2 separate regions of the Homo sapiens genome follow, and region 2 is linked to region 1. The links come from fine-mapping of genetic effects on gene expression. Tissue or cell type: lung. Region 1 holds a variant in brackets; the other region holds the start of a gene. All regions are shown on one strand. Distances are between the middles of the regions.

Region 1 (8,100 bases):
GCCGAAGAGGTGGAAGGAGAGACAGGCACTCTGTAACTTTATGGGAATATCTCACAATTTCTGCCTGACTTCTTTTTCATTTCCCTAAAAATGTTTATATACAGTATTATTCCTTCTTCTACCATTTACACTTAGTTCCAGTGCCCATGTCTCGGGTCCATGTCATAAAAGAAGTCAGAAACAGTCTCGAATAATGAGAATCCTCCTACCAGATTGTCATTTTCTTTTCTGGTGCTGCTGCCGCTTCTCCGGCTTCTTCCTCATCATCTGGCACTCATTTGGAAGCACTCCTTTCCATCCAGCTGTCTTCTGTTAATTTCTCCAGTGTGGTATCTGTTAGCTCTTCTATTTTTAATTAATTAATTATTTTTCGATTTGGAGTGTTTGTGTGTTGCCCAGGCTAGAGTCCAGCGGCACAATCTCAGCTCACTGCAGCCTCTGCCCCTCTGGTTCAAACGATTCTCATGCCTCAGCCTCCCGAGTAGCTGGGATTACAGGCATGCACCACCATGCCCGGCTAATTTTTTGTATTTTTTGTAGAGATAGGGTTTCACCATGTTGCCCACGCTGATCTCAAACTCCTGACTTCAAGTGATCCGCCCACCTCAGCTTCCCAATATGCTGGGATTACAGGTGTGAGCCACCTCGCCTCACCTATGTTTTGAGACACGGTATCACTCTGTCACCCAGGCTGGAGTGAATTGGCACGATCTCGGCTCACTGCAGCCTCTGCGCTCTGGGGTCAAGGGATCCTCCCGTCTCAGTCTTCCGAGCAGCTTGGATTACAAGTGTGTGCCCATGCCTAGCTAATTTTTGTATTTGGTAGAGACAGGGTTTCACCATGTTGCTCAGGCTGGTCTCTTACTCCTGACCTCAAATGATCCATCTGCCTCAGCCTTCCAAAGTACTGGGATTACAGGCGTGAGCCACTTTGCCCGGCCTATTTTGTTGTTGTTGTTGTTGTTGTTGTTGTTTTGCTTTTTTTTTTGGAGACAGAGTCTCGCACTGTCACCCAGGCATGTGCCACCACGGCCAGCTAGTTTTGTATTTTTAGTAGACATGTGGTTTCGCCATGTTAGCCAGGCTGCTCTCGAACTCTTGACCTCAGGTGATCCACCTGCCTCGGGCTTCCGAAGTGCTGGGATTGTAGGCATGACCCGCTGCGCCTGGCCAGACCTATTTTTTTAAATTTTTATTTAATTTTTATTTTTTTATAGAGACAAGAGATTTGTTATGTTGCCCGGGCTGGACTCAAACTCCTGGTCTCAAGTGATCTCCCCGCCTCAGCCTCCCAAGCAGTTGGGACCACAGACATGAGCCACCCATGTCCAGCTTTTTAGTTCTTAAATTTCTCCAAGATCTATCTTTTGAAATCCCTTACCCTCTACCCGTTTTTGCTGTCTCTACAATCTCTTTCACGATTTCCTTCATGGACTCTGTTATAAATCCCATGAAGTCATGCACATCTGAAGACAGTTTTCTCTAGCAGGAATTTATTGTTTCAGGCTTGATGGCCTTTCCTGTAGTGTAACCCTTCCAGACTTTCATAATGTTCGCTCTGCTGAGGTTCTCTTCCGTAGCTTTGATAATCCTCTCCATAGAGTACGTGTGTTATGAGCCTTGAGGGTTTTTACGACCCCCCAATCTAGAGGCTGAAGTAGAGACCTTGTTTGGATGCAGTAGACCACTTTGATGCCTTCAGTGTTAAACTCATGAAGTTCTGGGTGGCCAGGGGCATTGTCCAATATCAAAAGAACTTTAACAAGCAGTCACTAGCAAGGTACTTCCTGATTTCAGGAGCAAACCAATCTAGAAAAAGAATTTTTGTTGTCCAGGCATTTTTACCTCCTGCCTTGGCCTCTCAAAGTGTTAGGATTACAGGCGTGAGCCACCATGGCTGTCCTGCCCTGGCCTTCTTGTTGTATAACCAGAAGACGGGCAGCTGGTGTTTATCTTTTCCCTTTAAGACTCAGGGGTTAGCAGCTTCATAGATAAGGGCAGCCCCGATCATAAACCCAACTGCATTTGCACAAAACAGTAGCGTTATCCTGCCTTAAGTTCTGGTGCTTGGCCGGGTACGGTAGCTCATGCCTGTAATCCCAGTGCTTTGGGAGGCCGAGGTGGGCGGATCGCTTGAGGCCTGAATTGAGACCAGCCTGGGCAACATGAGAAAACCCTGTCTCTACAAAAAACCACAAAAATTAGCCGGGTGTGGTGGTGTTCACTTGTAGTCCCAGCTACTTGGAAGGCTGAGGTGAGAGGTTCACTTGAGCCTGGGAGATTGAGGCTGCAGTGAGCCATGTTCACGCCATTGCACTCCAGCCTGGACAAAAAAGTGAGAACCTGTGTCCAAGCAAACAGAAATAAATAAATGAATTCTGGTGTTTGCTCCTCTTCCTTACTAATGTCTTTTTTGGCTCCCCCACCCCAATAGGGCACTTATGTCTGCATTAAAAAACCTATTTGAGGCCGGGTACAGTGGCTCATGCCTGTGATCCTAGCACTTTGGGAGGCCAGTGTGGGTGGATCACTTGAGGTCAGGAGTTTGAAACCAGCCTGGCCAACATGGTGAAACCCCATCTCTACTAAAAATACAAAAAATTAGCTGTGTGTAGTGGCAGGCTCCTGTAATCCCAGATACTTGGGAGGCTGAGGCAGGAGAATCGCTTGAACCCAGGAGGCGGAGGTTGCAGTGAGCCACGATTGCTCCACTGCACTCCATCCTGGGTGACAGAGCAAGACTCCATTTCAAAATAAACCTGTTTGAGGCTGGGCACGGTAGCTCACGCCTGTAATCCCAGCACTTTGGGAGGCCGAGGCGGGCGGATCACGAGGTCAGGAGATCGAGACCATCCTGGCTAACACGGTGAAACCCCGTCTCTACTAAAAATACAAAAAATTAGCCAGGCACGGTGGCGGGCGCCTGTAGTCCCAGCTACTCGGGAGGCTGAGGCAGGAGAATGGCATGAACCCGGGAGGCAGCAGTGAGCCGAGATCACACCACTGCAGTCCGGCCTGGGCGAAAGAGCGAGACTCCATCTAAAAAAAAAAAAAAAAACAAACCTGTTTGAGCACATGCATATCTTTCCTTCTCAATGATTTTCTTAATGGCATCTGGGAACTCATCTGCCACCTCTAGGTGGGCAGAAGCTGTTGTTCCTGTTATCCTGACATCTTCTTAAAGCCAAACCTCTTTCTAAACCTGTCAAACCATCCTTTGCTGCCATTATATTCTCCAGCTTTCGCTCCTTCGCCTTGCTTTTGTTCTAAATTGTCATATAGTGACTTTGCTTTTTTCTTAAATCATATTAAACCTTGTAGGTGTGTCATTCTGATAGCAGTCCTATACACATAAAAACTGCATTTTCAAAGTGAGATAAAAAGTTACTTCACAGAAAGTGCAAGGTTTTCACACCTGTTGACATAGCTGCAATAACAGCTTCGTGAATTTCTCTTCTTCTTTTTTTTTTTTTAACAGTGGTCCTTATGCTGGATTCATTTATCTTGAAATAGTGGGCAACTGCAGTTGCAGACCTCAATCTATGGCACATATCAAACAATTCAGCTTTTTCTTGTAATGTCTTGACTTTTCTCTGCTTCTTGGGAGCACTTCCGCCATCACTAGTGGCACTTTTTTTTGAGATGGAGTCTTGCTCTGTTGCCCAGGTTGGAGTGCAATGGCACACTCTAGGCTGACTGCAACCTCCATTTCTGGGGTTCAAGCGATTCTCCTGCCTCAGCCTCCCGAGTAGCTGGGACTACAGTCACTTGACTAGTGGCAATTTTTATGGGACCCATGATGTTATTCAAGGTTTACTATATTGCACTAAACCTGAAAAATACTTGAGAACCCTGAGAGATGTCTCTTTACCGCAATATGCAATTTGCTAAAGGGACAAACAGCTTGTGCAGAGATGATCAGTGTCATGTGGTGTTTTAAGCAGATATTCTCAACACTTGAGCTCATTACAATAGCAACAGGAGGCTACAAAATGATTACAGTAGTACCGTGTGCACTACAGCTAATGTTATGCAGTTAAGATTTAATCTGCTAGGTGCAGTGGCTCACGCCTGTAATCCCAGCACTTTGGGAGGCCAAGGCGGGCAGATCACAAGGTTGGAGTTCGAGACCAGCCTGGCCAATATGGTGAAACCCTGTCTCTACTAAAAATACAAAATTGGCCGGACGTGGTGGCTCACGCCTGTAATCCCAACACTTTGGGAGGCCGAGGCGGGCGGATCAATGAAGTCAGGAGTTTGAGACCAGCCTGGCCAGTATGCTGAAACCTGTCTCTACTAAAAATACAAAAATTAGCTGGGTGTGGTGGCGTGCCACCTGTAGTCCCGGCTACTCGGGAGGCTGAGGCAGGAGAA[T/C]CTCTTGAACCCAGGAGGCGGAGGTTGCAGTGAGCCGAAGTCGTACCACTGCATTCCAGCCTGGATGACAGAGTGAGACTCTGTCTCAAAAACAGAAAAAAAAGAAGGAAAAAAAAAAACTAGCTGGGCATGGTGGCAGGTGCCTGTAGTCCCAACTACTCGGGAGGCTGAGGCAGGAGAATTTGTTTGAACCCGGGAGGTGGAGGCGGAGGTTGCAGTGAGCCGAGATTGCACCATTACACTCCAGCGTGGGTGACAGAGCAAGACTCCATATCCAAAAAAAAAGATTTCATCTACCATCTTTACATTTGTTTACATTTCTCTTGACTGCAAAACACATTATGTACAGTCTGTGTGCATAAGTTTTGATAAAGTTTAACTTTCTGCAATGTGTATATGTTTTATGGTAGTAAGTGATAAAACAGACTAGCATCTACATATATCTTATACATTCATTGACACTCCTAACTTTTTTTTTTTTTTGAGATGGAGTCTCACTCTGTCGCCCAGGCTGGAGTGTAGTAGCACGATCTTGGCTCACTGCAATCTCCACCTCCCGGGTTCACACCATTCTCCTACTTCAGCCTCCCAAGTAGCTGGGACGACAGGCGCCTGCCACCACGCCTGGCTAATTTTTTGTATTTTTAGTAGAGACGGGGTTTCACCGTGTTAGCCAGGATGGTCTCGATCTTCTGACCTTGTGATCCGCCCACCTTGGCCTCCCAAAGTTCTGGGATTACAGGCGTGAGCCGCCGTGCCTGGCCACACCTAACTTTTTCTTGATTTTTTTTTCAGTATTTCTAGGCTACGTGGTTCATCTGACTTTTTTCGAATTGTTGCAAATCTCCAAAAATTTTTTCAATATATTCATTGAAAGAAATCAGCATATTAAGTGGACCTGTATAGTTCATACCCATGTAGTTCAAGGTCAACTGTAATATCTAGTGTAGGTGTGCAGTAGGCGGTAGCATCTAGGTTTGTGGAGGTACAGTCTGTGATGCTCACACATTGGTAACGGCGCCTAATGATGCATTTCCAGAATGGTCCCCTCCATGAAGTGATTCCTGACTGTATTTGTGTCTTTGGGTCTGAATTGAGTCTCTTTTTTTTTTTTTTTAACATAAATAGAGATGGGGTCTTACTATGTTGCCTAGGCTAGTCTCAAACTCCTGGGCTCAAGCTATCCTCCCACCTCAGTCTCCCAAAGTGCTGGGATTACAGGCATGAGCCACCACTCCCGGCCAGTACTTGGATTCTTTCTTGTCACAGAAAGTTCAGGAGGCTGGGTGTGGTGGCTCACGCCTGTAATCCCAGCACTTTGGGAGGCCAAGGTGGGCAGATCGCCTGAGGTCAGGAGTTCAAGACCAGCCTGACTAATATGGTGAAACTCCGTCTCTACTAAAAATACAAAAATTAGCTGGATGTGGTGCCACGTGCCTGTAGTCCCAGCTACTTGGGAGGCTGAGGCAGGAGAATTGCTTGATCCTGGGAGGCGGAGGTTGCAGTGAGCCAAGATCGCACCACTGCACTCCAGCCTGAGCGACAGAGCAAGACTCCATCTCGGGAAAAATGAAAGAAAGTTCAAGAGACAGACAACGATAAGCACAATAATTACCACAGTTTTACACAATCACCTTTTCACCTCTCCCTTCTTAGCAGCAATTTCGGGGAGGGCCAGCCTATGGCCTGGTCTCTCATTTTCTTACCAAACCTACAAGGGTTGGGGGGTGGTCTCTTGTCATTGCATTCTGCAGATGATAATCAGTGACTGACACCCACTATCTCATGTCATATGGTGCCCCACTATGCAGCTATGCAGCCTGCACTGTGGAGCAGAAACATCACCCCCTCACTCCACCTTCACTGGCGCTCAACACACAGGTGCATGGAGGAGTCCGACGTGCCCTGTTGTGTGGCGCCATCACCTGTGTTTGCAAGATGAGGACAGGACCCCAAAAGGGAAGGCGACAGCCTTCCCAGGTCGGGTGGCCAGCCTCTTGGACCTGCTCGTCCAATTCAGGGATGATTGCTTTCTCGGTGCCTCCCTGGCCCCAAGGGCCTCAGAGATTCTAGGTCAAGGAGAAAAGCTACTGAATGAAGATTCTTATGCTTACCAGGGCTGTAGCCAGCAACTGCAGCCAGGGTGGAGGGTACCTAGGATTGGTTTGTCACTCAAGTGCCGAACCCTAGTGCTTAGATCCGGGTGCTTCAATGCGCACACACCCCAGCTCTGAGACACCCAGCAGGTGAAGAAGTCGCCCTGTGGCTTAGTTGGACAGAACAGGCTCCAAAGTCTGAGGCCCAGGTTCAAGTCCCACTGATCCATGTCCTCAGGGAGCATGGCAGCCCTCACCCGCCCGCTCATGTGGTGGAGTGGGCCTGGGGGAAAGGGACTGTGGGCATGCTCTAAGGCAATCAACCAGATGCTCAGACTTCGGCTCCTGCGTCTCCCCAACAGGGCTCCCCCACATCCCTCAGTGCCCTGTAAACCAAGGAAGGACTAAGAGTGCAAATGTGGGCCATTCTTAGCGGCAAAGCCCGAGTGTTGATGAGCTGGAAGGACCCAAATCTTTTCCCTTCCCAGAGGGCCCGCTGCACCCCTTTGCTCACCTTCTCCCCCGGGAAGCACCGCACCGCCCGAGGGGTGGTGGTTTCTGCCACCCGGATGGGGCTGTTGCAGCATCTTTCTATGTGTCAGTGTTACTGGAGCCTGCCAAGTTCCACAGCTGATGCCAAATTAAATGTCAGCTGCTCTGAGGATGGTTGGCTGCCTCCCCTGAAGGAGCTAAGGGAGTCGCACAGCTGAGTCTTACGCCAGACTCTGAATCTGTGCGCGCTTACACCTGGTGTCTGTTAGCAACGGAGCTGCCTTCTGAGAGCCCGTTTGTGCGTGCGCCCATGCATGCTGCCCACATGCCGTCTCAGCTCTCTTGTCTCTGGCTCTGCAAATTCCTGCCCTGTCACTCGTTAGCTGTGTGACCCTGAGTGAGTCCCGGAACCTCTGATTCTTGGTGTCCACATCTGCAATGTGGTGGTGCGTAGAGCCTGGCTGGAGAGGTCACAAGGACGTAAGATGCGGGGGTGCACGTGGCAGCACACAGCGGGACCCCGAGGCCGTCACGTACCACGTGGCACTGACAGTAATGATATGAGGTCCCCGTGTGCCTGGAGTGTCATGAAGGTGTGAGACTCACAGCACACCCCAGCGCAGGAGCGAGATCGGGGTGCACCTGTCAGGCTCTGACTACCCTGTGTCTTTGGTTTCCAGTTCAGGACCTCAAGGGGCTCGGCTATGAGAAGGGGAAGCCTGTGGGTCTAGTGGGCGTCACAGAGCTTTCAGACGCCCAGAAGAAGCAGCTGAAGGAGCAGCAGGAGGTAAGACTGCGGGGACAAGGGGACGGGGACATGGTCGGCGCCCATAGAGTGTTGTCCTCTACCCCCGGGTGCAGCGGTCACAGGGGTTCATGTGCTTCGCCAAGCTCCTGTGTTCAGGTGGAACCCATGGCCAGCGGGGAGGCTTCCAGGCAGGCAGGTCCCCCTGCCCCAGTAGGTGGCATGCCACCCCCCACTGCACCTGAGTGGCCTCTCAGCCTGCCTGGGAGACCACTGGCCCTTGGGGCGGCCCCGGTGGTCTGTGATCCTGGCCTGAGCTTTGTGGCTGCTTCTCGCCGCGCTCCAGGGCTGGTTCCCATGGGAGAGTCTACGTTGATGTTCTTTGTCCGCAGT
Region 2 (8,087 bases), 380 kb before region 1:
AACCTCCGCTTTCCGGTTTCAAGCGATTCTCCTGCCTCAGCCTCCCGGGTAGCTGCGATTACAGGCGCCCACCACCACTCCCGGCTAATTTTTGTATTTTTAGTAGAAATGGGGTTTCACCATGTTGGCCAGGCTGGTCTCGAACTCCTGATCTCGTGATCCGCCGGCCTCGGCCTCTCAAAGTGCTGGGATTACAGGCGTGAGCCACCGCGCCCAGCCGCCTCCTGCTTCTTTTTCCGGAACACCGGTCACATGAGTGTGCACGGAATTCCAGACTCCGTGTTCAGTGAAGCCATCCCTCCACCTTGGAGCTGGAGAGACTCCCAGGTCACAATGGAACAGGTAGGAGGCCCTGATGTCCTCCAGAGATCAGGAATTTATGAGGCTATTGGTCCCATGGCCAAGGCTTCCTACACGTTACTTCTTCTCAGGCTACTCCTTTTCAGCCAAGAAAATAAAAACATGCCTTAAAGGGAACAAAATTATTAAATGCAGGGAAAAACTGGAGTAAACCACTTTTTTTTTCTTTTTTTTTGAGACGGAGTCTGGCTCTGTCGCCCAGGCTGGAGTGCAGTGGCACGATCTCAGCTCATTGCAACCTCTGCCTCCCAGGTTCAAGAGATTCTCTTGCCTCAGCCTCCCGAGTCCGAGTAGCTGGAACTACAGGCATGTGCCACCATGCCCGGCCAATTTTTTTTTTTTTTTTTTTTTTTTGTATTTTTAGTAGAGACGGGGTTTCACCGTGTTAGCCAGGATGGTCTCGATCTCCTGAACTCGTGATCTGCCCGCCTTGGCCTCCCAAAGTGCTGGGATTACAGGCATGAGCCACCGTGCCCGGCCTGGAGTAAACATTCTATAAAGGTATTGCTACCAGAAAGGGGTCCAGTCCCAGACTCCAAGAGCAGAAGCTTGGACCTTGTATGGGAAAGAATTAATATTGGAGAAAAAACTGAAAAAGTAAGTATATCGAACTGTATCATGGGACAGAAACATGTCATTCCTATTTTTACTGAAGATTATCTTATTTGATACTATGTGATTATTAAGTCCTATTACATTTCCTTTCTCCTTTTACGAAGTCATGTATCTTAATAATATGCAGCCGGGCACGGTGGCTCAGCCTGTAATCCCAGCACTCTGGGAGGCCCAGGCAGGCGGATCATGAGGTCAGGAGTAGGAGACCAGCCTGCCCAACATGGTGAAACACCGTCTCTACTAAAATTACAAAAATTAGCCAGGTGTGGTGGCGCATGCCTGTAATCCTAGCTACTAAGAAGGCTGAGGCAGGAGAACTGCTTGAACCCAGGAGGAGGAGGTTGCAGTGAGCCGAGATCACAGCATTGCGCCTGGGCGACAGAGCATGACTCCATCTCAAAAAAAAAAAAAAAAAAAAAAAAAAAAAAAAAAAAAAAAAAACCAGAGCCGGGCCCGGTGGCTCACGCCTGTAATCCCAGCACTTTGGGAGTCCGAGGCGGGTGGATTACGAGGTCAGGAGTTCAAGACTCAGCCTGGCCAAGAAGGTGAAACCCCGTCTCTACTAAAAATACAAAAAATTAGCTGGGTGCAGTGGCAGGCGCCTGTAATCCCAGCTACTCGGGAGGCTGAGGCAGGAGAATCGCTTGAACTCCGAGGGCAGAGGTTGCAGTGAGCTGAGATCACGCCACTGCACTCCAGCCTCCAGCCTGACAACAGAGTGAGACTCCGTCTCAAAAAAAAAAAAAAAAAAAAAAACCAGAATATGCAGTGGGTGGCCGCAGCGGGTCACACCTGTAGCACTTTGGGAAGTCGAGGCAGGCAGATCTCTTGAGGCCAGGACAGGAGTTCCAGACCAGCCTGGCCAACATGGTGAAACCCTGTCTCTCCTAAAAATACAAAAATTAGCAGGCATGGTGGTTCATGCCTGTAATTCCAGCTACTAAGGAGGCTGAGGCAGGAGAATCATTTGAACCCAAGAGGCAGAGGTTGCAGTGAGCCTAGATTGCAACACTGCACTCCAGCTTGGGCAAGAGTGAGACTCCGTCCCAAGAAAACAAAACAAGACTAGGACTGGGCACCGTGGCTCACACCTGTAATCCTAGCACTTTGGGAGACTGAGGCGGCCAGATCATTAGAGGCCATGAGTTTGAGACCAGACTGGCCAACATGGCGAAACCCGTCTCTACTAAAAACACAAAACATTAGACTGGGAGCGCTGGCTCACACCTGTAATCCTAGCACTTTGGGAGACCAAAGTGGGCGGATCACAAGGTCAGGAGTTCGAGACCAACCTGGCCAACATAGTGAAACCCCATCTCTACTGAAAATACAAAAAATTAGCCAGGCATGGTGGCACGCGCCTGTAGTCCCAGCTACCCGGGAGGCTGAGGCAGGAGAACCGCTGGAACCCAGGAGGCGTAGGTTGCAGTGAGCTGAGATCGCACCACCGCACTCCAGCCTGGGCAACAGAGTGAGACTCCGTCTAAAAAAAAAAGTACAAAAATTAGCCGGAGCGGTGGCATGCGCCTGTAATCCCAGTTACTTGGGAGGCTGAAATGGGAGAATCGATTGAACTCGGAAAGTGGAGTTTGCAGTGAGCGGACATCGCGCCACTGCACTCCAGCCTGGGCGACAGAGTGAGACTTCATCTCGAAAAATTAAAAAAAGAATATGCAACAATATAAGCTACAAAATTTAAATATCCAATAAATTTTAAGTTTAAATAAATTTGCTGTATCAGAGGACAAAAAGAAACATAAAATAGTTACTGTTTGTCACACATACTGTTTAATCCTACTAATTGGTACTGTTAAGTAGTCCTATTGTGGTTTTGTTCAAATAGCATTTATGCAACAGTACAGTTAATAATATAGAACTATATAATTTCTTTTTTTTTTTTTTTTCAGACAGAGTCTCGCTCTGTCGCCCAGGCTGGAGTGCAGTGGCGCGATCTCGGCTCACTGCAAGCTCCGCCTCCCAGGTTCAGGCCATTCTCCTGCCTCAGCCTCCCGAGTAGCTGGGACTACAGGCGCCTGCAACCACGCCCGGCTAATTTTTTGTATTTTTAGTAGAGACGGGGTTTCACTGTGTTAGCCAGGACGGTCTCGATCTCCTGAACTCGTGATCCGCCCGCCTCGGCCTCCCAAAGTGCTGGAATTACAGGGGTGAGCCACCGCGCCCGGCCTAGAAGTATATAATTTCAAGTAAACACCAGTTTTTCATTTTTTATGTTAAAGTGGTAATTTCTTTTTTTTTTTTTTTTTTTTTTTGGAGACAGAGTCTCGCTCTGTCGCCCAGGCTGGAGGGCAGTGGCACAATCTCCGCTCACTGCAAGCTCTGCCTCTCCAGTTCGCGCCATTCTGCCTCAGGCTCCGGAGTAGCTGGGACTACAGGCGCCCGCCACCACGCCCGGAGAATTTTTTTTTTTTTTTTGTATTTTTAGTGGAGACGGGGTTTCACCGCGTTAGCCAGGATGGTCTCGATCTCCTGACCTCGGCCTCCCAAAGTGCTGGGATTACAGGCGTGAGCCACCGCGCCCGGCCTAAAGTGGTTTTTGTAATTCATTTTTCTTTTTTTTTTTTTTGAGACAGTCTTGCTCTGTTGGCCAGGCTGAAGTGCAGTGGAGCAATCTTGGCTCACTGCAACCTCCGTCTCCCGGGCTCAAGCAATTCTCCTGCCTCATCCTCCCGAGTAGCTGGGATTACAGGCATGTGCCACCACGCCCGGCTAATTTTTGTATTTTTAGTAGAGACGTGGTTTCACCATGTTGGGTCTTGAACTCCTGATCTCAGGTGATCCACCCGCCTCGCCTCCCAAAGTGTTGGGATTACAGGCGTGAGCCACCGCGCCCGGCTAGTATTTGTAATTCTTATCTATCACATTAAGGCTCTTGTCCGGTGTGGTTGTGTTCCGGGGCGGTCCCCGACCCCGCCCCTCACAAGCCCCGCCCCCCGCACCGGGCCCCGCCTCCTGAACTCCGAAGCTCCCGACCCCGCCTCCGCAGGGTCCAGGCTTCGCCCCTGGTGACAGGTGGTGCTGGTGTAGTCAAGGAGGAGGGCTCGCTTTTTTTGGTTCAGGTTGTCATGGTGGCGCCCAAGCCCGCCTTGCCGGCCTTGTCTTTTCCGGTCTCAGTCCGGCGTGGCAGCGGAGGCAGGCACCGTTAGGTCTTCCAGTCCCTCTCTGTCATGGCGACGCCCAGCCTCTTCTTCCGGCCACAGCCTGTCATGGCGGCACCCGAAGTAGTCCCTGCCGGGGCCAGCCTGTTCTGTTGCCCTGGCTCTTCCTAGTCCAGGCTGCCATGGCGGCGCTCAGGGCTTACCGGAAGTAAAACTTCGGAAGTGAGGCGTTCCTCTGCCCGGAAGTGAGCGCGGCGCTAGGAAAGATGGCGGCAGCGGCGGCGGTGGGCAACGCGGTGCCCTGCGGGGCCCGGCCTTGCGGGGTCCGGCCTGACGGGCAGCCCAAGCCCGGGCCGCAGCCGCGCGCGCTCCTTGCCGCCGGGCCGGCGCTCATAGCGAACGGTGACGAGCTGGTGGCTGCCGTGTGGCCGTACCGGCGGTTGGCGCTGTTGCGGCGCCTCACGGTGCTGCCATTCGCCGGGCTGCTTTACCCGGCCTGGTTGGGTGCCGCAGCCGCTGGCTGCTGGGGCTGGGGCAGCAGTTGGGTGCAGATCCCCGAAGCTGCGCTGCTCGTGCTTGCCACCATCTGCCTCGCGCACGCGCTCACTGTCCTCTCGGGGCATTGGTCTGTGCACGCGCATTGCGCGCTCACCTGCACCCCGGTAAGTGTGTACACGCGAGCCCGACCCCCAGCACGGTCGAGCCTCGCCGTGGGTCCCAGCTGCGGCCTTCCTGTCGGTCACCATCGCGACCTGGGCCACTCATCTGCCTGGCCTGGATTCCCAGGGGCACCCTCTACACTTTGGCGCAGGCTTAATCATGACCCCACTGCTGACTTGCTGTGCATGCCTGGTGCGGGTTATTTCCTTTTTCTGAAGTCCTCCCTGTTATGGTCATTTAGATTCAGTGATGTAATACTTGTAAAAGGCTTAGCGCAGGGCCCAGCATACGTCGCCCAGGTCAGGTAGGAGTTGTTTATACTAGTTCCCATATTAGCGACTACTCTTGTTCTGGAAACGGCCCTACCTTCCATCTCATCTGTCTCCTACCTTGGTTTTCAAAGTGTAAGGCGAGATCACTGGGATAGGTTTCCCCCATCTATGAAGCTTAGTTGGTTCTTAGACTGAACCAAGTCTTGCTGTCCAGTGCTTAGTGGTCTTCCATACTGTGATGGAAAGGAGCATGAAATGCAGTTAATTACAGTGTTGAAGAGAGGCAGAGGTGTTTATGAGCGAGTCATTTACATGATGTCTTTCCGCAAAATGAGGGTGGTGATACTGAGTTCTGTCGGGGATACAACAGCAAGCAAGGTCGCGCTCCTGACCCACAGTTTAGAGTTCTGAGTGACCAAGTGTCGTCGGAGGAGTTGGTGACTGTGAGCTTCCCTGGGCCTGAAGCAGTGACTGTGTCGTCTCTCTCTGGGCCTGCCTCAGGTGACACCAGCAGGTTTGGAGCCATGGACACTGAGGTATATCAGGAAGCTTCCCCTCTGATTCCAGGAGTGTGTTTGCCTCAAGAAGAGGAAAAGGGAACAGCATCAAGGGCTACAGAAAGACAGAAGCCCCCCACCCTGGCTGGCTCTGAATGTGGGTAGAATCCTCATTCTCCTCTCCTGAGAGACAACCTGTTCTGTCCTTCAAAAAGACTTATCTATCCCAGGGGAGGAGCTCAACGTGGTAGCTTTGAGGTAGTACAATGAAAGACACCAATGAGGGACAAAATAAAGGAGGGGTTAAGGGGACTGTGGCACCGCTCAAACTTCAGCTGCCTTTTGACCTGCAGCTAAGCAGCTTAGCTCTTAACTTCCTCTCCAGGGATGGAGAAGTGGGAGGAGCTGAACAGCCATCAGCCAGGAGAGGTGGATCTGGGTTTGATTCAGATCTCAGAAAGGGCCGCTTCTGCTCTCTGAGTTTCAGTTTCCCCCTTCTGTAAACTGAGAACCGTAACTAACAACTACTGGGTGCCATCTTGAGAAGCGGAGATGATATCTGCAGAGTGCCCGCCCTGGGGCCATCACAGCGTATAGCCTCTTGTACCTTTCTTCCGTGACGTCACGTTTGTAGTTATGTGATTGTTGTTATTTGCTGCCTGCTTTGGAGGCCCATGAACCACCCGTGCGGTGGCGCTTTGTTTCTGCGGGTCATCATTGTGCTCCCCCCATCTCCATGCAGCTCGTCTCCATGCAGCTCGGTCTAGCAGAGCAGCAGAGGAATGGATGGCGGTTCACGGGGTCCAGGGAGCACTGAACGAGTTCCATTCAACATTTCTGTGTCTTAGGTGCTGGGGAAACAGCAGTGAACAAAACAGGCAAATCCCCCTGCCTTTGTGGTGTTACTGGGAGGGAGAACTCATAGTCAGCAGTTGATGCCAAACAGAGATGACATCTAACATCAGGACAGGATGGGACATTGCCGGGAACTTTAGATGGGGCAGCCAGGGAGGGGCTCCTGAGAAGGTGATGTTTCAGCAAAAGCCTGAGGCAGCAAGGGAGCTGTGTGACTGTGTATTCCGGGCAGAGAAAACAGCACATGCCAAGGCCCTTTGCTGAGGCACGATCGAGCCCCATGTGCGTGTGGAGCTGTGGAGTGTAGTGAGCAGGGTTGGTGGAAGAGGCAGAGCTGAGCAGGAGGCCGGGGGCCTGTGATGGGGCGGGGGCTTGGCTCACGTGAATTGAGGACGTACTGGGTGGGTGCCTGGCAGCGTTCTTCCTATTTGAGTTCATGTCACCTTCAGCAGAGCAGAGCCCTGGGCATTAGGTGCTGTCTGTGCACCCAGCTTCCCAGCTTTTTTTGTTGTTGTTTTTGTTTTTGTTTTGTTTTTTGGGGTTTTTTTGTTTGTTTGTTTGTTTGTTTTTGAGATGGAGTCTGGCTCTGTTGCCCAGGCTGGAGTGCAGTGGCACAATCTCGGCTCACTGCAACCTCCGCCTCCCAGGTTCAAGTGATTGTTCTGCCTCAGCCTCCCGAGTAGCTGAGACTACAGGTGCCTGCCACTATGCCCAGCTAATTTTTATATTTTTAGTAGAGACGGGGTTTCACCATATTGGCCAGGCTGGTCTCAAACTCCTGACCTCGTGATCCCCCCTGCCTCAGCCTCCCAAAGTGCTGGGATTACAGGTGTGAGCCACTGCACCCAGCCTTTTTATTTTGAGACAGAGTCCTGCTCTGTCGCCCAGGCTGGAGTGCAGTGGTGCAATCTCGGCTCACTGCAAGCTCTGCCTCCTGGGTGCACGCCATTCTCCTGCCTCAGCCTCCCAAGTAGCTGGGACTACAGATGCCTGCCACCACGCCCAGCTAATTTTTTGTGTTTTTAGTAGAGATGGGGTTTCACCGTGTTAGCCAGGATGGTCTCAATCTCCTGACGTCGTGATCTGCCCACCTCGGCCTCCCAAAGTGCTGGGATTACAGGTGCGAGCCACTGTGCCTGGCTGGTTTTTTGTTTTTTTTTTTTTAATTGAGATAGGATCTCACTCTGCCACCCAGGCTGGAGTGCAGTGTTGCAATCTCAGTTCACTGCAACCTCCGCCTCCCAGTTCAAGGGATTCTCCTGCCTCAGCCTCCTAAGTAGCTGGTATTACAGGTGTGCACCACCGTGTCCGGCTCATTTGTGTATTTTTAGTTGAGACAGGGTTTCGCCACATTGGCGAGGCTGATCTCAAACTCCTGATCTCAAGTGATCCGCCCACCTTGGCCTCCCAAAGTGCTGGGATTATGGGTGTGAGTCACCGTGCCCAGCCTTGTGCTCCCAGCTTTAAGTGTGGCACCAGAGGCACAGCAAGATGGTCTCGTTTGTCCTGATGACAGACGAGGGAGTGACAGAGGCAGCACCAGAGCCCAGTGGCATTTCAGAATATACCCATAGAGCTGCTGCACCCAAAACCTCCCGGGGGGGTCTTGGAACTGTAGGTTGAGAAGAGCTAAGCCACAATGCTTTCTTTGTCTCTGTCAGGAGTACGACCCCAGCAAAGCGACCTTTGTGAAGGTGGTGCCAACCCCCAAC

The links. PIP is the estimated chance that this variant, and not a neighbour inherited with it, causes the effect.
Region 2: it holds the start of ATP13A1, and the variant in region 1 is fine-mapped to the expression of ATP13A1 in lung (GTEx, PIP 0.98).

What each region holds. Positions count from the first base shown.
Region 1 is chr19:19,279,834-19,287,933 of GRCh38, reverse strand. It overlaps SUGP1 (SURP and G-patch domain containing 1), which reads left to right. Exons shown (of 14, transcript NM_172231.4): 9 at 7,643-7,749. Among named protein-coding and RNA genes, the nearest start is that of TM6SF2, 11 kb to the right of the region's middle. The variant T/C (reference allele first, on the strand shown) is at 4,375.
Region 2 is chr19:19,659,937-19,668,023 of GRCh38, reverse strand. It overlaps ATP13A1 (ATPase 13A1), which reads left to right and starts at 4,348. Exons shown (of 26, transcript NM_020410.3): 1 at 4,348-4,753; 2 at 8,037-8,087. The coding sequence starts at 4,358. RefSeq lists silencers at 3,862-3,911, 4,352-4,611 and enhancers at 4,012-4,301, 4,645-4,746, 4,018-5,000, 5,132-5,181, 5,882-6,361 and 1 more.